3 linked regions of the Homo sapiens genome follow. The protein of the gene in region 1 purifies or fractionates together with the protein of each later gene. This does not show direct contact. Each region holds a gene or a part of one and is shown in the gene's direction. Other genes may lie near its edges.

Evidence for each region. The genes of interacting proteins can lie anywhere in the genome.
Region 2: the proteins of ARIH1 (region 1) and KLHL7 purify together in Homo sapiens (affinity purification with mass spectrometry; 3 studies listed by BioGRID and IntAct, with this or other methods). This does not show direct contact.
Region 3: the proteins of ARIH1 (region 1) and TEFM purify together in Homo sapiens (affinity purification with mass spectrometry; 3 studies listed by BioGRID and IntAct, with this or other methods). This does not show direct contact.

The regions. Positions count from the first base shown.
Region 1 is NC_000015.10:72,560,618-72,569,107, forward strand, and holds part of ARIH1 (E3 ubiquitin-protein ligase ARIH1), read left to right. Parts: intron 1-865; coding exon 866-932; intron 933-2,776; coding exon 2,777-2,883; intron 2,884-5,945; coding exon 5,946-5,988; intron 5,989-6,488; coding exon 6,489-6,560; intron 6,561-8,490. UniProt on the Homo sapiens protein: E3 ubiquitin-protein ligase, which catalyzes ubiquitination of target proteins together with ubiquitin-conjugating enzyme E2 UBE2L3.
Region 2 is NC_000007.14:23,121,687-23,130,176, forward strand, and holds part of KLHL7 (kelch-like protein 7), read left to right. Parts: intron 1-2,090; coding exon 2,091-2,193; intron 2,194-3,001; coding exon 3,002-3,095; intron 3,096-3,361; coding exon 3,362-3,486; intron 3,487-4,074; coding exon of another isoform or gene 4,075-4,133; exon of another isoform or gene 4,134-4,364; intron 4,365-8,490. UniProt on the Homo sapiens protein: Substrate-specific adapter of a BCR (BTB-CUL3-RBX1) E3 ubiquitin ligase complex. The BCR(KLHL7) complex acts by mediating ubiquitination and subsequent degradation of substrate proteins. Probably mediates 'Lys-48'-linked ubiquitination.
Region 3 is NC_000017.11:30,898,094-30,904,336, reverse strand, and holds the end of TEFM (transcription elongation factor, mitochondrial), read left to right. Parts: coding exon 1-271; intron 272-3,774; coding exon 3,775-3,924; intron 3,925-4,730; coding exon 4,731-5,168; 3' UTR 5,169-5,351; downstream 5,352-6,243. UniProt on the Homo sapiens protein: Transcription elongation factor which increases mitochondrial RNA polymerase processivity. Regulates transcription of the mitochondrial genome, including genes important for the oxidative phosphorylation machinery.

The DNA.
Region 1 (8,490 bases):
CTCTGAGGAAGGGTGGTACTTACTGTTTTGAGGAAATACAAGAATACGAATGTGATAGGAGTGCACTGAAAGTGCCACAGGACAGGGTGGGATCTTGTGGAAGGAGAGAGGCCTATGAAGCTCAAGAGTCAAATGAGGCCAGATTGGTTCATTTAAAAGATTTTAATGGGGTTGAACTACATGCATGTTCTTCATGTCTTTCTCAGTGGGAATACACTCAGAGGAGTATTTACCATAGAACTAATGAAACTTAAACTTCAGGATTCCTCACTACGTGGGATCCTGTGAATTCTGGAAATTCTTGTGAGTTATAGTGTTCAGAAGAGGCCAGGATGCAGTCAGTGAGCATTTCTGGTTAATTTCTAAGAGCTCTCAGAAGAAGAAGGCTCTTAAAATTGTATCAGCTTTAGGTATCACAAAACCTGGATCCATTTCTTAACATTTCTGGCAACAATATCTGTCTCATTTCGCATACTGATTTGGGTGGGGTGTCTGAAGGAAGGTGGCTGAGAATTGCTGTCTTAAGGCATGATATGATATCAGAGTCAAAAGACCCTGAAATGCGCTTATACTTGGCACTAGTTGGTAAGTCATTAGGCTGTAATAAAAACTGGGTAAAAGTAGACTATTTAAAAAATAAGAACCATGGAAAAAAAGTCTATGAAAATAAAACTATACAAACTTTGAAATTATTGTTCTGATCAGTACAGTTATATTTGTTGATAGCCTATGTGCATTTCAGTATTTACAGCTTAGGGCATAAACATGTAGCCGTAGCATAAACAGCTTTTGAAACTATGTTTTATAAATGTGGAAAATACTCTTGACTGGAAACTTTCTAATCTATTTTTATTCTTGGTTTCAGGCGCCTGATCACAGATTCAAAAGTTAAATTAAAGTATCAGCATTTAATAACAAATAGCTTTGTAGAGGTAAGTGATTTGTTTTCCTTCTTGTAAGAAGGAATTCTGTTTATTAATAGAAATACTATTTTAAAAATTATAATTTATTGACAGTAAAAAACATCTTTAACATATTTATGAAGCATGCCAAAATACCTTTATTCTCAAAAGAGTATGACAGGCCAGGTGTGGTGGCTCATGCCTGTAATCCCAGCACTAAGGGAGGCCGAGGCGGGTGGATCACCTGAGATCAGGAGTTCAAGACCAACATGGCGAAACCCTGTCTCTTCTAAAAATACAAAAATTAGCTGGGCACAGTGGCACAAGCCTGTAATCCGAGCTACTCGGGAGGCTGAGGCAGGAGAATCGCTTGAACCCTGGAGGCAGAGGTTGCAGTGAGCCGAGATGGCGCCACTGCACTCCAGCCTGGGTGACAGAGCGAGACTCCCTCTTAATAAAAAATAAAATAAAATAAAATAAAAGAGTATGAGAAACCAGTAAGTACATCTCTCCATAGATCTTGACCTTGGATAATAAAATTATTTTTACTGTATTCTTCCTTTACTTTTCTTTATCCCTAGCTGAGAATTGTAGTAGATTACTAATCGTGTCATGTTTAATCATGTTTGAGATTCTAACCCTGCTATTTCTCTGCTCGTTTTAGGTTTCATTACCAGTAAATCTTGTTAATAAAGAATGCTATCCTTTATTGGACCATGCCTTTGCCCATTTGTTCTATGACTCCTTTTGTGCTACAGTGGCAGAGTTGAGTAGTTGCTACAGAGACTGTTCTGGCCTGCAAAACCAAAATTCTTTACCCTCTTGGCTTGTTACAGAGGAGTTTTTCAGCCCCTGTATGACAACATCAGTAACTTGGTCTTTTAATTCTAGAAAGTAATTATTTCTGTTAGAGATTAAACCTGGAAACAGCCTATTTTAGAAATAGTGTATTATTTGAAATGGTCAATGGACTTCTGAATTCTGGTGCAGAGTGTTTTTTTTTCATAATACTATAAAAGTTATATTTCCTTTTGAGGAACTAAAATGCAATCTTTGCCTGTGGTTTAGGAACTGGGTTTTTTGTTTGTTTTTTTTTTTCCTTCTTACAAGAGCTTTTTATGGGAGAAGTTGTATGTATATCCTTTAGCCTATCTTGAACTATTCTGTAGCTTCTAAACACCTTCCTTGATAAAGAGTATATCTGATTTTCTTGTGTCTTTTGAAAATTGTTCTGAAATAGAACTGTAAATAAATTAGTGGTTTTTAATGGTCACATACATGATATTTAATTAAAGTTATTCAGTGGGATTTTGAAGATAGAACAAGAGGTGATTCATGTATTTTATAAAACCAGGTCTTCAGGGATCAGTCATCTTTAAAAAAAAAAAAAAAAGGCACATCTGAAGTGTTGCTATAGAAGACCACAGCAAGTTTTCATAAGCTTGTGTAATTATCCCCCATTTGCCCCTTGTACCAGAGAAGCAATATAAATAGCTTGATGTACTAGGAAATCTTGCATCATGACCTAATTTAATTTGCTGTCTTTTTTTGAGGCAGGGCCTCATTCTAACACCCAGGCTGGAGTGCAGCAGATGATCACAGCTCTCTGCAGCCTCTACTTCCTGGGCTCAAGTGATCCTCTTGCCTCAGCCTCCTGTGTAGTCGGGACTACAGGCACATACCACCATGCCTGGCTAAATTCTTTTTTCTTTTTTTTAAGGTAGAGACAAGGTCTTGCTATGTTGCCCGGGCTGGTCTGGAGTGCTTGACCTCAAACAGTCCTCCCGCCTTGGCCTCCCTAAGTTCTGGGATTATAGGTGTGAGCCACTGTGCCCAGCCAGCTGTCATTTTTTATTTTCTAACTTGTATTTCAGTGCAATCGACTGTTAAAGTGGTGTCCTGCCCCAGATTGCCACCATGTTGTTAAAGTCCAATATCCTGATGCTAAACCTGTTCGCTGCAAATGTGGGCGCCAATTTTGGTAAGCAAGTGATTTCCTAAATTGAAATAGTGCACAAAGCGTTTCCATTTCTCCTGTTTATTCTTGGTAGTAAAATAGCAGAAAAAAAGTGTTTACCTTAGGCAGGGAGATGTTTGATACTGGTTTAAAATAGTATATATCTCTTTCAGAATTGAATGAAAAGGTCACATCTTAAAAAAATTTTTCCTCTTTCCTTGATGTTCTAACTTTTTTGAATTTTTTTTTATGGAGAAAATATACAACTCTAATCATATCTTCCTGTATGCTCCACTGTAACTTAATGGGAGCAAACTTGTAGATCTGGGACTATACGTTTTTCTTTACTCTGCCAAATTTTAACCTTACTTATGCAAAGGAAATGTGCAGGTAAATTCTGCTGATGGTCTCCTTTTTAACTAAGAGTTTTCCTGTGGCTCCTCTCGCCCAGCTTTCTTGGTAACTTGGGCTTTTGGAGTTCTATAGTATACTCTTCAGCCTCTGAATTCTAGATTTGAACTGCCAGGAAGTTTCCAGTGCCACATATTAGGGGATGTCTTAATCAGTTCAGGCTCCTTTATAGGTGTTCTAGTTTTTTCCAAAGTGGATAGGCTGAAAATTTTTCAAATTTTTGACTTCTTATTTCCTTTTGATGAACAGTTTATCTCTAGGTCATTCATCTCTTCTTGCATTTTCTATAAACATTCAAGAGAAGCTAAGCTGCGTCTTCAACACTTTGCTTAGTAATTTCCTCAACCAGATATTCAGTTTCATTTCTCTACCTTCCACAAAACAATTCAGCCAACTTCTTTGCCACTTTATAGCAAGGATGGCCTTTCCTCTAGTTTCTAACAGCATGTTCCTCATTTTCATCTGAGACCTCATCATAATGGCCTTTACTGTCCATATTTCTAACAACATTCTGTTCATGGCCATTTATTTAGGTTTTCTCTATGATTGAGGCATTCCCTGCACTTCTGTCTTTCTGAATCCTCACCAGAATTACCCTTAACAATTCAGTTCATTCACAGTGATCTAGGCTTTTTCTAGCTTGCACTTCCAAGCTCTTCCAGCCTCTACTTACTACCTAGTTTCAAATCGGCTTTCACATTTTTGGTTTTGTTAGAACAGCACCCTCACTTCTTGGTACCATTTTCTGTCTTAATGTTCAGGCTTTTATAACAAAAGACCATAAACTGGGCGGCTTCTAAACAACATAAATTTATTTCTTACAGTTCTTAAGGGTGAGAAGTCCAAGATCAAGGTGCCAAAAGATTTGTTGTCTGGCGAGGGCCTGCTTTTCTGGTTCATAGATGGTGCCTACTTGCTGGGTCCTCATATGGTGGAAAGGACAAGGCAGCTCTCTGGGCCCCTTTTTTTTTTAAAAAGGATGCCAATTCCATTCACCTCCTAAAGGCTCCACATCCTAATACTGTCACATTGGTTATTAAGTTTTAACATACACATTTTAGGGGGACACAAACATTTATATCCTGCTAGAAGTTAAGATGATTTTCTGTTCCTTTGAGGGTCTTGAGGAGTAAGAAGCCAATCAAGTCAAGGGGCTCTAGACCCAGCAAATAGATTTTTTGTTTTGTTTTGTTTTGAGAGAGGGTCTCACTCCATCACCCAGGCTGGAGTGCAGTGGCACGATCTCGCACTGTAACCTTTGCTTCTCAGGTTCAAGTGATTCTTGTGCCTCTTGAGTAGCTGGGATTACAGGCGTGTGCCACCACGCCTGGCTAATTTTTATTTATTTATTTATTTGTTTATTTATTTATGTATTTATTTTTAATAGAGACAGCATTTCACCTTGTTGGCCAGGCTGGTCTTGAACTCCTGGCCTCAAGTAATCCACCTGCCTCGGCCCTCCCTAAGTGCTGGGATTACAGGTGAGAAGCACCATGGCCAGCCAGATTTTCTTTTTTGCTGCGGGGTGGTTTGGAGGGGGAAATATTTTATTGGTATTCCATACCTTTCTTTTTTTCCTCCAAACATCTATAGAATTACACTTAACACATCATTAATAATAAATATTTCCAAAAAGAGCAGGTAAGCTCACAGAGATTAAGTATGTGTAAAATACATACTGTTTCGATAAAGATTAATTATGTATTGTTATTTTAGAGAAAAGGTGGATAATACCTACTTTCCAATGTATTTTTAGCGTGACACATTTCAAACATAAAAGTATAGAGAATACAGCAGTGAATACCTATATAGCTACAATCCAGTTAAATCAAAATTAGTATTTTGTTTTTCTTCATTAAGAGATAAAACATGACACATATATTTGAAGCTCCTTGGTTCCCTGCTCCTTCCCATTCCCCATCTTTCTTTTCAGAAATAACCATTTATCTTAACCTGATTTAAATCAATAGTAGTTTGTTTCTGTCTTTAGCAAAGGACTTTTTGCCATTCGTAAATTACTTAATTAGCTAATTAATCTGTCATTTTATTATTTTTTTCTTAAGCATTTGTGTTTGTTAATTATACTTCTTTTACAAGTGTATATGTCATGAACTTAGAAAACAAAAGTGAATTACTGATTAACACATGTTTAGTGAGTATTTAGTCTTTTTGTTTTATACCTTGCCCAGTACCATTTCCCTCTACAGGGCGGAGGTTCATTTGTTTAAATAATGCAAAGATGTGACCTATTTGCTTCCCATATATTGTTTACTGTGTATTAGTACTAAATTATATAAGTAACCTACAAAGTCAGCCTTTTATTCTTCATTTAGGGTGTTAAGTAAAAGATTAAAAATGCACTGATGAAGCATGGGTTGAAACTTCTCAATATAGTCTGAGGCACCTTAGCAACAATTATTATGAAATTGTCATCAAAGCGTGTCTTCATGCTTATAGTCATTCTTCACACATATTGAGTACCCACTATGTGCTAGTTCTACTACTAAATTCTAGGTAATTAACTGTAAAGCAGACATGGGTTCTCTCCTTGTATTTGCCAGTCACTAGAAACTAGTGACAATACTGTGGAACTATAAGGCATGAAATGATTGGCTTATTTACTTGCTTACAGTAGGTAGGCCTTAATTCTATTAACTCTTTGTGTCACTTAACAGCTTTAACTGTGGAGAAAATTGGCATGATCCTGTTAAATGTAAGGTGAGTTTGTCTGACATTTCAATTTTTAAATAATGGCACACTTCTAAGACTTAGTGACTAAAAATCATAGCTGATGATTTTGTTATCTATCTATTGATAGATTTTTTTTTATCCTTTTAATTTCAGATGATCATTACATGTATTCAGAGGTAATTCCTTAGGATAAGCCAAGTCAGCTCCTGATTGTTATTAGGATAACCATGGCTAAGGCACCTCTTTGTCAGGCTTTGTAATTAGGGGAATACACACCTTGCAGTTGGGCTTCTCTTCAAGCTCTAGGTTCCCCACTCAGCTTCTGCCAAAGAAAATCCTGCTTTGGTTGATTTTATATATACTGGACATTGTAGCTATGGGATTTCCCTGGCTTAAGAGGATGTGAGCCTAGTGATAATCTTATTCATTGGCTTTTACATTTAAGCTTGACTATAGTTAAGTGCTAAAGTAATTTGCTATTTTTAAAAGTCTTTTGTTGTATCCTAACCGTTGTTATTTTCAAACAGTGGTTAAAGAAATGGATTAAAAAGTGTGATGATGACAGTGAAACCTCCAATTGGATTGCAGCCAACACAAAGGTTGGTGTTTTCCTTCAGTAACTCTTGGTAATAAAAATGATAAGGATTGGTACTTTGGCATTAGCAAAAGCAATGAGGTGACCTACTTACAGGCTTTGTTTCATCTTTTTCTCCATTGAGTCTTTTTTTTTTTTTCCCAGAATGTTTGCCTGTTATTTCCTTTTTCTCTTTGAGTTTATTTTAGAGTATTGAGTACTGTAGTACAGCATCCACAGTTCTCTGCCTTAGGTTTCTTCTACTGGAAAAAAAATTAGTGTTCTGTAGAGGAAAAAGCTGATAATTTTTCAAGTGTGGGATTTGTGCTTGGCTGCCATTTAGTATACAAATGCATTGGAGTTTACTCCGCCTAGCTTGGTTCTGTTAGGCTAATTTACATTTTTGTTTCTAATTTTTTGTTTTGAAGTACATTGCTCTTGATACTAGTTTCAAAATTCAATTTCAAAATTCACTTTCTTAACCCCAGACAAATGTCTTAGAAGTGTTTAAATCTTGAGTACCCTTCTCCTCGATCACTAATCTAATGAGCAAGCATTTGAATGCCAACCGTGTACCCAGCTAGTCTTTTAATACAAAGTCGTATTATCCATCCTTTATGTAATTCAGTCCTATCCTATCCCCATAGTGAGTGACTTGGGTAATGAATGGTAGGTTGGTTCATGGGCTATTCATTTTTAGTATTATTTTGTACATGTAAAGATGATGCTTTAAAGAATGCTGAGTTGTTTGACCCATAGTATATAAAGCTATCTTTGAACTGTTGCCTCAGTCATCACAGGACAATGAGATTAAGAAGTGTGTAAACAATGAAGGCCGACGCAGGTTGTCTGTGTGTGTTTAAATATACATCTTACATACTTATATATAAAACATGAATTTATATTTCTGTCTCCCAGAAAGTAGTGAAACAGTGAATCTTGCCACATAAAACAAATGCCCAAGTCTTTAAGGAATATATGGTAGAAATTAATATTTTTTGTTCCCTCCAAAACCATCACGATAAGCATAACTCACGTCAATCAAAGAAAACCTTACTATAAATATACTGTAATGTCAGAAAGTGGTTACTTGTTTTGTTATTAAAAAAAAATTCTTAGCCAAGCATTCTTTTTTTGAAAATTGAAGATTTTCCCACAAGAAATGTTCCTTAAGTCCCAGAATTCTTTAATATGCTCTGAAAAACTAATATTTAGAATAAGGCAATTATATTTTCACTAAATTGTTTAATTAAATGGTAGCCTTTTTTCTACATCTAGAGAAATTCCTACTTGTAAGCCCCAAAGATGTTTAAAATAGGGAGTACAGGCTTGAATATGTTTGGCTTAGTTTAGATTGTAGATTACCAAGGAAGAATGGCAATTTGTAAAACAAATTTAGCTGCTCAGTATTTTTGAGAGAAAACTGAAGAGTTTTTCTCTTGAGGTTTTAGAAGCTTTTAAGATTATTAGCTCCCTAAACAGATATGCATATTGTCAGTGATATCCTAACATTTTGGAGGTTTAATACTATTAGGTTAATTATAACCAAGAAATGTAGAATGTAGAATGACGCATATTTTATGCCTGAAATTTGCTTGTTTGGAAAAAATGTAAAATTTCTTATGTGGGTGATTTCAAAAATTTGATTTGAAATATATAATTAAAAAGTTGCTATATTGGCCTATTTTAAATTGCTATCATTGATGGGCAGCATAGTCAATTTCACAAAGAAGGCCAAATTGTGCAAATACTAATATAGTGGGTGATCCCTCCTTGGGAGAGTTACAAACCTCAATCACAAATGCAAAAACAAAAAATCCATAGGCCTACAGAGCAGTAATTTTGGCTTACTAGCAACCAAGAATATGATATGAGGCCAGGTGCAGTGGCTCACACCTGTAATCCTAACACTTTGGGAGGCCGAGGTAGGCAGATTGCTTGAGCTTGAGAGATTG
Region 2 (8,490 bases), on another chromosome or scaffold:
TTTTTTTTTTAGTTGAGATAGAGTCTCGCTCTGTTGCCCAGGCTGGAGTGCAGTGGCTCGATCTCAGCTCACTGCAAGCTCCGCCTCCTGGGTTCATGCCGTTCTCCTGCCTCAGTCTCCCAAGTAGCTGGGACTACAGGTGCCCACCACCACACCTGGCTAATTTTTTGTATTTTTAGTAGAGGCGGGATTTCACTGTGTTAGCCAGGATGGTCTCAATCTGCTGACCTTGTGATCCGCCCGCCTCAGCCTCCCAAGGTGCTGGGATTACAGGCATGAGTCGCTGCACCCGGCAGTCCCATCTCTTATTGGAAATTATCAGTCTATTGTAGTATAGGCAAATAAATGTACCATTTGGATACAAAAGACTCTTCCTACTTATTTTCCCCACCCCTCCAACCATTAATATCCAGCTGGACATTAATCTTAGACTAAAACTCAGTTGCTGTACAAAGATCTACATTTCTTCAACCTCCTTCAGTGCCTATAAAGTCATTCTACTTATAAACTCTGTTGTTGAGTATGCCTTGGAGATGTTTTTGCTGTATTTTGGTTTAACCCTATGTTTCATAGAAGTTCCATCACTGGCCATAGATTTCTCCCCATGATCTGATATAATCTGATTTGCTTGATGCTTTATCATCTTTATTCTTCACTCCCCACCCCTTTCTCCCTCTCCTTCTCTCCCTCCTTTGACCTCCAAGGCAACTTGATCACTTGTTTTTTGGTGGTAACCAAATAGTTAACTTGGTTATGCTACTTGGTATTTTTTGGTATAGTATGTAGCAAAAACACCTGAGAGATCTGCCTCTGTACCCCCTCCCCAAATGAAATAAAATTTAAAAATTCAAGACACTATGAGAATAAAAATAGCTTTAGTTATAAACCTGCATATAAGTTTTAAGCAATAGTCAATACTAGGCCTTATTTGAAAATCTTCAAATAAGCTGTAAAAGTGAAATTTTGTTCATTTCCTAGCCTGCTATTTGAGGCTTATTTTCTCTCTCATTCTAAACATTATTATTTTATTTTATCTTCACAAAATAATACAATAACAGATTTATCTATCAGAAACTATATTAACAGTTTTAGTAAAATACTTAAAATTTGCAAAATGCAAATCCTCTGAGCCATGAAGCCAATCTTAGATTTGTAAGCGATATTTTTTTTACTCTGAATATATTATTTGCCTCATATTCCCAGTGCCTAGGACAGTCTTTAATACATTGTATACACCAAGTTTTCTGTAAGCCTAATCTCTATATTTTGTCTTTAACTTCGTTAAGAAATTAAGATTTTATTTGGCAAAAAGGACATTTATTTTTCTTGATATTCATTTATAAGTGTTCTAGTAAGCCTTAAATTTTTTCTTTATTATTCCGTTTTCCCCACATTTTAATTAAGTATTACTCAGAGCTGCCTTCTTTAAGCAGCTTATGGTGATACTATTTTGACGTTGGTCAGAAATCAGAATTTAAAACTGGCTGCTATCCAGCTTCTATCAGAAGTGCATTTGAGAGAAGTGTTATTTAATAAAAGATTGCTGAAAGGACATTTAGTTCATCTCCTCTCTGTATTCTGAGCTGTTTCTGTTTCAAGTTAGATCTGTGAATGCTACTTTCTTAGGAAATGCAGTGTATGTTCTCAATTTCATCAAGGATAAATAATGGAAAATAAATCATATAAAAACTAATTGCTGTGTTTGAAAAACTGTCAGGGTGTCAGGGGCACTGCCATGATGTCATTGAATTTCCCCCAGAAAAGCTTACCATGAGAAATGTCCTAGAATCTGTGTCAGAAAAAAAAAAAAAAAAAGACTTCTCTGAAGGGTTAGTAGACTTGTTTCTGATTATGAGGAACTTTTTCTTTCCTCTTGACTGTTGGAAAACTCAGTGCAAAATTTTTATACTACATGGCAGCGACTCTGTAAGTCCTTTCTAAATATGTCTTCAAAAGAAATTCTGCGCTGGAAAAAGATTGGCTTTAAATAGAAAATAGAGATAAAGCATTTGGCAAGCACCTTTTTAACATGTATTGCCAAGCTAGGCTAGTGAGCCTCTTTTTATTTTATGTATTTTTCCTTTGATTAGAAAACGTTGTGTGACGTGATCCTCATGGTCCAGGAAAGAAAGATACCTGCTCATCGTGTTGTTCTTGCTGCAGCCAGTCATTTTTTTAACTTAATGTTCACAAGTAAGTATCTTAAGGTAAAACATGCCATTATTTCTTCTATGAGAATGAAGTAAAATCTAAAAGAGAATATGTCATTTTTCTAATTTTTAAAGCAGTTAAGAACTTAAGGCCACAGAACAGTGAAGAGATTGAAAAAGTAGTCAGCTGATAACCAAAGGAAAAAATGTCCTTTCATTAGACCTAAAGGCCTGATGCCTTTATTGATGGAGGTACAGCTTCTACTTAAAAGCCCAGGGTTGAGGTGGAGGTTGCAGTGAGCCGAGATTGCACCACTGCACTCCATCCTGGGCGTCAGAGCGAGACTCTGTCTCAAAAAAAAAAAAAAAAAAAAAAAAAAAAAAAAGCCCAGGGTTTTCTTTTTAACCTTAGGTGGAAAGACAAAGAAGCAGATAAATTTCATAATATTTTAGCCGGCAAGTTAAACTTTAAAAAAAAAATAGCTGTAGCATATTGTGCCAGAAAGAACCCTGGATTTGGTGTTCAGAACTGGGTCCAAGTCCTACTTCCTCTACTTAGTACTATTTTATGAGCTTGGGAAAAAAACAAAATCTAGTTTTATGTTTCTGTTAATATGGTCTTAAAAAGAAGTACACTAATTCACTCTTTTCTTAGCTTAATTTAAGGCACATCTTGGGTGGAGAATTAATTTGCATTGACTATAGAAATGTTGGGCTTGCTGGGGCATTTTCTTCCAGAGAGAACTGTCCCGTTATTTTTCTGCATATTTAACATGGCCTGGAATGCCGTGGTTCCTCAGTCAAACTTGTGGTAGTACAGATGCCATTTATGTTTCTTCTCTTCATTGTAGCTAACATGCTTGAATCAAAGTCCTTTGAAGTAGAACTCAAAGATGCTGAACCTGATATTATTGAACAACTGGTGGAATTTGCTTATACTGCTAGGTGAGTTAAGTATTATTTTTATTTTAGAGAAGTAATGTTGGTATCTACCATGGCAAAGCATTGTCGTAACAAATAGTTGCACTACAAATTCTTCAAAATGAAAAACCGCAAGGATGGAAGAGTTTCAGTATCCTATGCCATACTAATTCAAGGACTGAAAGTTTAATTTTGTGTTTAATTTCAGGGGCTATTAGGATACATTCCACAGTAACATTTAAATAATAAAAAATCATGGGTAACTAATATTCCCTCTAACTTATTTGCAGAATTTCCGTGAATAGCAACAATGTTCAGTCTTTGCTGGATGCAGCAAACCAATATCAGATTGAACCTGTGAAGAAAATGTGTGTTGATTTTTTGAAAGAACAAGTTGATGCTTCAAATTGTCTTGGTAAGAAATATCAGATTCCTGTTGTGTGTTTATTTTGTTTTATCCTTTATTTCTAATTTAATTTTTTAAAAAGGCTGATTTTAAGTATCCGCATTTAACCTTAAAGACATTGTCCACTAGAACGTTTTCTAGTAATAAAATTTAAGAGGGGCTTAGAGAGATGCATATTAACCTGGGCAGCAGCAAGCTTATTAAATATTATATCAACATTTTCTAAAACACAAAATGGCATTTTTAATGGTTTTTCACGGATCTAGGACAATGAATAAGGATTGCATGTGGTGATAGTAACATGATTATGAATGTTTCCTTTTATTTAAGCACTTATGATATGCTAAGGTCTATCACAGATGAGGCAACTTATAGTTAGGTAACTTGCCAGAGGTCACATAGCTAGTGTATGAACGAGCTGGGATTGGAACTCAAGTAATCTAATTCTTAGCTACTACACCTTGCTGCCTCCCCACATTGTCAAAATGCTGTTTTATACTAGAAAACATAACCTTAGTCTATAAATTAAGATACTAACTGAGGGACTGCTATAGCCATTTTGAAGCTATTAATAAAGTATTTTCTATTTTGTGATAGGAGAAGCAGAAAAAGTTGATCAGAGCCTTCCAGAGTGTGGTATGCTTTTCACTGTGTGATGATCCTTAGTGGCACATGAATGAACGTCCAGATGTTTGTGCAGTAGCCCACCCTTATCTGCAGGATACGTTCCAAGACCCCCAGTGAATGCCTGAAACTGCAGATAGTACTGAATCCTATATATACTGTGTTTTTTATGATACATACATGCCTATGATGAAGTTTAATTTCTAAATTAGACAGTAAAAGATTAACAACAATAATAATAAAATAGAACAACTTTAACAATATGCTAGCATCACTACTCTTATATTTTGGGGCCATTATTAAGTAAAATAAGGGTTACTTGAACAGAGCACTGCAATACTAGGGTAGTCCACTTCATAACCAGGATGGTTTCTTAAGTGACAGGCAGGTAGGTTATACAGCATGGATATGCTGGTCAAAGGGATGATTTCTGTCCCAGGCAGGATGGAGCAGGATGACGTGAGATTTCATCACACAACTCAGAACAGCACACAATTTCAAACATATGAATTGTTTGTTTCTGGAATTTTCCATTTAATGTTTTTGAACCACAGAAAGCAAAACCATGGATAAGGGGGACTACTCTAATTCCATTTTCCTACGCTTGTTGTGATTCAGAGGCTTTAAAGAAAGGGAAGAGCGCTGGTATAGGAGTGCTAGGAAAGCAGGGAGGAAAGAAAAGTAGAATGAAGGAAAGTATAAAGAGGGGTCAAAGAATCCAGTCAGTGCTAAGATATTTGACCCAGGAGAAAAGAAGAGGGGTGCTAAATGACAAGAACGCAAAGACTGATGCAAAGGGCTCCTGAAGATGCTTCAGAATTTTGGCAAGTCTCCTCTGTCCCTACTTTTTGTAGGCTTTCCTCCTTCCGGACACTTTAGTACTCCTTCCTGCATACCCCCTCACTGTGAGCACAGAGAGAGAGATCTTGGAAGGCAGGTGGAAAGCAGCAGAATAAATTTCAGGAGGAAGTAAAAGTCAGGTGAAGGGAATAAAAATGAGACTTAGCCTAATATCCAGAAAAGGGATTGGACTAGATGGAGCAGGAAGAGAAATAGCTATGCAGGTGAATATACTGAAGGAATTTTTAAAAGGTAGCCATGGGTCTACATATTGAAAAGATCCCTATATTAGAAAATAAAAGGCCAATCTCTAATCCTACCTGTACAGCAGAGACACTCTGGCATGAGTCCTTCCATCTCTTTGGGCCGTAATTGGGGCTTCACTCATCAATAAGATTTATATTCCTAAGACTTAAGGTTACTTCCATTATATAAATAATTATCTTCAGACAATACTATAAACGGGGAATTACCTTAATTAAGTTTTTGGAAATGATGGCTTATGTATGTTTCTATAACTCCCTAGCACTCTAAATTTCCTCCTGGGGTGATTCAACTACAAAGAAGAATGGCTGAAATATAGGTAGGTAGTAGATGTGGTGGTGCAAAGCATAGTGTGGAACCTGGAGTGAGTCTGTGCTAAGCACATCTTAGGCTTTGGGCTTCTGAGGAGACCATTTAGTAGTTTTGCCTCTGGATACCTTCTATCCTTACTGTTCACAAAGCTGGGAGGAAGGACAGCCCCGCCACCTAGAAAGTAGCCTGATTCCTGGCTAAGCTTCTGGCAAAGACAGTGGCCCAGCCAGGTGAGCCAAGTGCCATAGCCCAATAACTAGGGAAACTGCTTCTGCTTGCTTTCTGTTTAGCCTTGAGCATGGCTCTCAATGTCAGCTGATTGGATAATTCCTAGCTTAGTTTTCACCACCTGTCAATTCTCTGCTGCCCAGAAAGAGTCCATCAATCGAGCTTCCACAAATGCTAAAGGAACCGGTGGCAGCTGATGGAATCGGGCAAAGATCATGTAAAAAATTAAACCCAGTACCAGCCTGGCCAACATGGTGAAACCCCTCTCTACCAAAAAAATACAAAAATTAGCCGAGTGCAGGCGTGGTGGCACACACCTGTAGTCCCAGCTACTCCGGAGGCCGAGGCGGGAAAATCGTTTGAACCGGGAGGCGGAGGTTGCAGTGAGCCGAGATCTTGCCACTGCACTCCAGCTGCATGAGACAGTGAGACCCTGTCTTGGAAAAAACAAAAAAAAACAGTAGTTTGAGGAACAGAAAACCAAGCTAAACAGCCAAAATGAATGGCTCCTGTAAGGCAAATTTAATGTGAGAAATAGAAGGGAACAAATTAACCGGGCATGGTTGTGCGCGCCTGCAGTCCAAGCTACTCCAGAGGCTGAAGCGGGAAAATCGCTTGAACCGGGAGGCGGAGGTTGCAGTGAGTGAGCCGAGATTGCGCCACTGCACTCTAGGCTGGACTACAGAGTGAGACTCTGTCTCAAGAAAAAAAAAAAAAGCAAACTTAAAAATACGATGTGTAAAAATATGGTTTTACAGTTTTTTGACATTCAATTGAATTGAAAAATAGAATCGATACTCTTAAAACTCAAACCGAAGAAGATCAAACAGGAAGTTGCCTCATGATACGAAACAAAAATGCAAAGGAAGCCACTAGTGAGAAGATAAAAGAAAGGGAAGGAAGATACAGGAACTGCAGTGTGAGGTAGGAGTTCCAGAAGGAACAGATGGAGAAAGCAATAATCAAATAAGACTACGACTTCTTTGGGTTTAAAAAAAAAAAAAAAAAAAAAAAAAAAAAGAACTTTAACTTTCGGACTAAGTTATACTGAGTATTAAACCTGATCAATGAACTAAGATATTCCTCCCTCAGATATATTCTAGTGATATTTTTCACCTTCAAAGATCAAAAGAGAGCTTACATTTGGGGTGATAAAAATATTCTGGAACTAGATAGTGGTGACTGTGGTACAACATTGCAAATGTAGTAAATGTCACGGTAAGTTTTATGTGTATTTTACCACATTAAAAAAAAAAGTGACCCTACAGCTAGCAGGTCCCAAAAGAAACTCCCACACCCACTAGCAGTCACTCCCCATTCTTCCTCTGGCAGGCCTGGCAACCATGAATCTGCTTTCTGCCCCTATAAATTTGCCTATTCTGAGTGTTTCATATAAATTGAATCATACCAAAGGTGGCCCTTTGTGTCTGGCCTCTTTGAGCACAGTGTTTTTAGGGTTCATCCATATTGTAGCATTTATCAGTACTTCATTTCTTCTTATGGCTGAATAATATTCCATTGCATGGATATACCAAAATGTGTTTATCCATTTACTGATGGGTGAATGTTTGAATTGTTTCCAAGCCAGCACATTTTATAGAGGAAAAGGAAAGCACTGGTTAACTTGAACAAAAAAAAATAAAAGTGCTTTCTACCATCTGGGACCTTGGCTGTGGATCAGGTGAGTGCACAGGTCAGACGAAAGCCCTACAGTTGGCACAGCCTGGGCCTCTGTCCATGGTTGCAGGGGCATCTCCGCAGCTACTGCATGCAGTGATCATGGGGGCCCCAGACCTGGGCTTAGGCAAGGGCACTGTGTTGTTGTACATCACCAAACACTTCAAGCTGAGGCACCTCTCCAGCAGGGACTGCTCCAGGACAACATGCTACAGGGCACATAAATTGGTATGTTAGCCAAGGCTTTTCTTGACCAAGGGAAACTCATCCCAAATGATGTTACGACTCGGCTGGCCCTTCATGAACTGAAAAATCTCACCTAATATAGCTGGTTTTCCAAGGACACTGCCATAGGCAGAAGCCCTAGATGAGCTTATCAGATAGACACAATGATTAACTTGTATGTGCCCTTGGAGGTCATTTAAACAACACTTCACTGCTTGCTGTTCATCTAGCTAGTGGCCGAGTCGACTACATTGAATTCAACCGTCCCCAAACTGTGGGTATTGCTGATCTGACTGGGAAGCCTCTCATTCGGCCTGAGAATAATAGACCAGAGACACAGTTATCAAGAGACTGAAGACTTATGGAGCCAGTCCCAGAACTTTACCAGAAAAAAACAGGGATGTTGGAAACACTCTCCAGAGCAGAAACCAACAAGATTTAACGTCATGTTTATGCTTTCCTACAAACTAAAGTTCCACAAAATCAGAAAGCCCCAGTTACTCCATGAGGAGAAATGATTATAACTAGTAAGATGAGCAGAACCTCCTTGTCCTTGGATTTAGAGGCTCCTTTTCCTAAGAATGGAGCATGTATAAATAAGAATGTAGGCATGTATAAGAATGTATGCATGTATAAGTTCTTTGAAAATTATATTATTTCTACAGATTTTATTCTGGATACTAATGATGTGCCAGATGAATCAGGTACTGATTCATCTTTTGAAATCATCTAATGTGTTTTATCCAGTTATCTTCTAGCAGTGTGCAATTCAAAAACATCATTGGTGTCTAAACTTTTAAAACATCCGTTAGAGCAAAATTAAAAGAGCAATTAGTAGTCTTT
Region 3 (6,243 bases), on another chromosome or scaffold:
TGTGTTGAATACAGCATCTACTAAAGAACTTGAAGCTTTCCGATTGCTTCGTGGAAGAAGGTCCATCAATATCGTAGAGCACAGAGAAAACTTTGGGCCATTTCAGAATTTAGAGAGTTTAATGAATGTGCCCTTGTTTAAGTATAAAAGTACAGTTCAAGTTTGTAACTCCATACTTTGTCCAAAGACTGGACGGGAAAAAAGAAAGTCACCGGAAAACCGGTTCCTGAGAAAGCTCCTCAAACCAGACATAGAAAGAGAAAGACTTAAGGTATATTCTTCATGTCTGCTATACTGCCTAATATTTGAGAACCTACTCTAGAAAGCACTCTTCTGGGCATTGGGTTGGGAAGTGGCTAAGACAGGGTTCTTCAGGTTTAGTTGGCAAGTATATGATCACTACCAAATAATGAGATGTACAGATAGTAAATTGGCAGTTGAGAGGAGAGAAAACAATGGGCTGTGACTGTTGTGGAAAGTTTACTGGAAGAACTCAATTTAGGTCTTAAAAGAGAGATCCTTTGGATGGGAGAGGAGGGCATTGTAGGTAGAAAGAACAGTTGATGCTGAGAAGCAGGTCTAGGCAAGGCTTATTTAAGAGGAGTGTCGTTGGAGATACCAGGCTGTGTCTAAGGGTGATGTTAGGATTAATGAGAAATTAAGGAGCAAAGATAGGTTATGGCCAGTGAGTGACTTTAGAACATTATACCAGTCTTTCCGGCAGAATTTAAAATTATTTTCTGTACCTTTTCTCCTTTAAAAAGCATTTTATCTTGAATCATGCAAGTCTATAGGTAAGATTAAAAAAAAAAAAAAAAAGCGGCTGGCTCACACCTGTAATCCCAGCACTTTGGGAGGCCAAAGCGGGCGGATCACAAGGTCAAGAGATCCAGACAATCCTGGCCAATGTGGTGAAAGCCCATCTCTACTAAAAATACAAAATTTAGCTGGGCATGGTGGCGTGGGCCTGTAGTCCCAGCTACTCGGGAGGCTGAGGCAGGAGAATCTCTTGAACCTGGGAGGCAGAGGTTGCAGTGAGCTGACATCACGCCAGTGCACTCCAGCCTGGCTACAGAGCAAGACTCTGTCTCAAAAAAAAAAAAAAAACACCATTCTAAAAGCAATTCTTTTTCTATTGTCTTAAAAAAATAAATACTAGAAATATTTGACACAGCCAATTTTTTTTTTTTTTTTTTTTTTGAGACAGAGTCTTGTGCTGTCGCCAGGCTGGAGTACAGTGGCATGATCTCACAACAACCTCCACCTCCCAGGTTCAAGCGATTCTCCTGCCTCAGCCTCCTGAGTAGCTGAAACTACAGGCACATGCCACCACGCCCAGCTAATTTTTGTATTTTTAGTAGAGATGAGGTTTTACCATGTTGGCGCCAGGATGGTCTTGATCTGTTGACCTCGTGATCCACCTGCCTCGGGCTCCCGAAGTGCTGAGATTACAGGTGTGAGACACTGCGCCCGGCCACAGCACTCAAGTATTAAACTTTAGAGGAACTCATGTCCTGTGTAACATTGCTTGATAATCATTATCTCATAAAAATCATAAGCACCATTTTTTTTCTGGACCAGTGGGTCCGTTTTTTGAGGAATATGGGTACTTTTGAAAACCTGATGAAAGCTGTGGACCCTCTTCCCATAGAAAAAGATATAGCACATATACACAGAATACTACACAGTTTCAGAGGACTGGCAGATTCTGTTAAGTCCACTCATGGACTCCAAGTAGAACTGCTGCAATTGATCTGGAACATATTTTAACCAAATTCTTCAGGGAGGATTCTCATCCAGATTCATGGCCAAAACTATTTATACCCAGATTAGAGTGGAGTTGCATCTTATTTAGGGGGCTGGATTTTAAGTCAGTTTTTATGGAGATATAAGTCATGCAGTAAAATCCTTTAAGAAAAAATCGATTGCCGACGAAGTATTGTGTGTAGTCTGGTTCAGTAATGCTTGTGCACAGTAAAGCTTGAGAGTCACTTAGCTAAAGAAAACCAAAAGGAAGTCTGTATTTTGGGCATCTATACTATTTTGTCTTTAAGATATTTATCCAGTCCTTAGCAATGAAAGGGAGATGGGTATACAACTAATTGTTCCTGTTTATTTGCCTCTGTATCTATAGAACATATTAGTTTGTTAATATAACTAAGTGAGCCATGTTGGGGAAAGGTGATAGCATTGTACTTCATCGTCAGCCCAGACTTGATAGGAAGCAAAATCTAAATATTCAATTACTTATTATATATCTCCTCTTAGAAGCCCTATAGGCAACCCAAACTTAATGCATTAAAAACAAACCAAAACAAAACAAAAAAATTTCTTCCCACCTTCCCTAGGTCATGTGACTCCTATCTTCGTCATCATTAATGATGCCATTCAGTCACTGATATAAAACTGGAATTATTCTAGACTCCTCGTTAAACCTATGTATTAATTCTGCTCCCACTATCTGTTTCTTTTCCTTCTGTCATTGTCTTCAATTCTTAACACTTTCTCATGTTGTAACAGGTACCTAACACAGATCCCTACCTTTAGTTCCCTCCAGCCCATCTTTTACACCATCAGTGATTTTTCTGAAATGTAAATCTTATGTTATTCCTTAAAATTCTGTTTTTTTAGTGGCCCCTGTAGCACTCAGGATAAAGCAAGTTACTTACCTTTATAGACATCTGCCTTGTCCTCTGCCCTTTTCCTATTCAGTCTTTATTCTACTGCCAGAGTGTGAGATGTCAAACAGCCTATCTTTCCAGACATCTGGGTGAAATAACTTCCCATTTACTGTCTCATTCTCCTAGTCCTCCAGTAAACCTTCCCTGACCACTTCTCTCTACAATAGTTTTATGGTGGCATTTCTTATAATGTACAGTTACGTTTGTTGTTTCCTAGTATCTAGTGCAGACCTTGGCTACACTTGAGTTTGAATGCCTACTTTGGGCAAGGTGCTGAGAATGAGTATAGGTCCTTTATCTATAAACTGACTGCTGCTGGTTACCTTTTAATAATAATTACTCCTTGGTGGCTCACACCTGTAATCCCAGCACTTTGGGAGGCAGAGGCAGGTGGATCACTTGAGGTCAGGAGCTCAAGACCAGCCTGGCCAACATGGTGAAACCCTGTCTCTACTAAACATACAAAAATTAGCTGGGTGTGGTGGCAGGTACCTGTAATCCCAGCTACTCAGGAAGCTGAGGCAGAAGGATTGCTTGAATCTGGGAGGTGGATGTTGCAGTGAGCTGATTGCGCCACTGCACTCTAGCCTGGGTGACAGAACGAGACTCCATCTCAAACAAAATAATAATTACTCCTGCATTTCTTTAATAATTCTCAGTTCATAAACTATAAATAAGTTTATATTACATAAACTAGTTAGGCATTCTGAATTTGTAGATTATGTTTGCATCTAAAATATTTACACTTCTGGCCAGGCACGGTGGCTCATGCCTGTAATCCTAGCTCTTTGGGAGGTCAAGGCAGGTGGATCATGAGATCAGGAGATCGAGACTATCCTGGCTAACACAGTAAAACCCCATCTCTACTAAAAAAAAAAATAAAAAAATTAGCCGGGCGTGGTGGCGGGCGCCTGTAGTCCCAGCTAGTCGGGAGGCTGAGGCAGGAGAATGGCATGAACCCAGAAGGTGGAGCTTGTAGTGAGTTGAGATCGCGCCACTGCACTCCAGCCTGGGAGACAGAGCGAGACTCCGTCTCAAAAAAAGAAAAAACTAAAATGTTTATACTTCTAATTAAATCAGTCTTTTCTTTTAGGCAGTTAATAGTATCATATCTATCGTTTTTGGTACTCGAAGAATTGCCTGGGCTCACCTTGATCGTAAGTTGACAGTGCTGGACTGGCAGCAAAGTGACCGTTGGAGTTTAATGAGAGGAATATACTCATCATCAGTCTATTTAGAAGAGGTAAGGCAGTTGCACCTCCAGATTCCTACCTGCTAGAGCTCCTTGTGTAGTTTAATCTTCTGGTCCCAAAAGGAATGTAATAAAATAGTAAAGATGGGTTTTCTTCTGGTACTTGTTACTCACTTATTCCTATTATGTTTTCCATCACCTTTGATTTTTAAAAATTCAACCTTTAGTTAGTTCAAGAAATGCCTTATGCATCGAAGGCAGATACTGAGAAAATCAATGGTATTTCATTCTAAATGTTATAGAACATTATCACTCTTTTATTTATAAAGCTTATTTTTCAAAATGCCATCACATTGTCTCATTTGAGTTTTCAAAACCTTGCGAAATGGTCAGGAATTATCACCTTAATGGTCAGGAATTACCACCTTGATTATACATATGAAATCTGTGGTTCAGTCAAGCATCTGATGTGATTAGTCAGTTGCAGAGGTGATTGATTCTTGCTAGTTATTCTAACCGTATGCTCTATCCCAGAAAATGTTTGAAGGTTTAGTAAAACAGTTTTAAGTTGTCTAACCTTAAAGCCAATACATATTTTAGAAATTATGAAGTCCACTGTACAGATCAAGAAACTGGTACTTAGGAGGACTAAACAGCTTAGCTTAGCTGTTGTTGTGACATAACCATGACCAGAACCAGACTGCTCATAAAATGGCTTTTTCAGTTATTTCAAAATTGTCAATATAGTATAAATTAACTAATTATAATATTTTTAAATAGAAGTGGGACAGAGAGGGGACCAAACATAAAATGTAATGAATTATTTCTGTTCCTTTATTTTGTCTTTTTTTAAAAAGATTTCCTCGATCATTTCAAAGATGCCTAAAGCAGATTTCTATGTTCTGGAAAAAACAGGACTTTCCATTCAGAACTCATCTCTGTTTCCAATACTGTTACATTTTCATATCATGGAAGCCATGCTGTATGCCTTATTAAATAAAACTTTTGCCCAGGATGGGCAGCATCAGGTGCTGAGCATGAATCGAAATGCAGTGGGGAAGCATTTTGAACTGATGATTGGTGACTCCCGGACTAGTGGAAAAGAGCTAGTGAAGCAGTTTCTCTTCGATTCTATACTGAAGGCGGATCCTCGGGTGTTCTTCCCATCAGATAAAATAGTTCACTACAGACAGATGTTTTTATCTACTGAACTACAAAGAGTAGAAGAGCTTTATGATTCATTATTACAAGCTATTGCCTTCTATGAATTAGCAGTGTTTGACTCTCAGCCTTAGAATTCTGAGGTTAACGTGCTAAAGTATAATTATTAGCTCTAACGTAACACCAACTGTTGTGAACATCCATGTTATTGGAAAAGAACACATTTTCAGTGTATTTTAGATGTTTAAATTCTGACTTTTGGCTATTAAATGGTTTACACAATAAGCCAAGACCAAATCAATAAACATTTTATGAGATTCTGTGCCTCTCAGGTTAATGTGTTAAACAGTAACATGGGGCTTGGTGCAGTGGCTTATGCCGATAATCCCAGCACTGTGGGAGGCTGAGGCAGGAGGACTGCTTGTGCCCAGGAGCTCAAGAGCAGCCTGGGCAACATAGCAAGACCACATAATTTTTAAACATTTTTCATTAAAAAAAAGAAACAGTAAGATGCCAAATTGACAAAACAAGAAACAAAGTTATCTCCCTTTAAAAGCAAATACTATCTATACTAAACATTTGCATTATTATCATATTGTTAAAATAGGGAATAATGGTTTTCCTAGGTGGTACTTATTATAAGAATAAAGCTGGCCACGCATGGTGGCTCACGCCTGTAATCCCAGCACTTTGGGAGGCTGAGGCGGGTGGATCACCTGAAGTCAGGAGTTTTGAGACTGGCCTGACCAAAGTGGAGAAACCCTGTCTCTACTAAAAAAAAAATACAGAATTAGCCGGGTGTGGTGGCGCATGCCTGTAGCCCCAGCTACTCAGGAGGCTGAGACAGGAGAATCGCTTGAACTGGGTGGCAGTGAGCCGAGATCGTGCCATTGCACTCCAGCCAGGGCAACAAGAGCAAAACTCCGTCTCAAAAAGAAAGAATAAAGCTAAAGATAACTGATAATACAGCTTATAGAATCGTCCTCTCTTAGAGGACGATTGTGTGTGTAGAATGTGGTTTGCTACACTGCCTCCAAAAGCTGATTTTCTTTTTTTGAGACAGGGTCTCACTCTGTCACACAGGCTAGAGTGCAATGGCACAATCACAGTTCACTGCAGCACCTCCTGGCCTCAAGCAATCCTCCTGCCTCTATCTCTTGAATAGCTAGGACTACAGGCACATGCCACCATACCCGGCTAATTTATTTT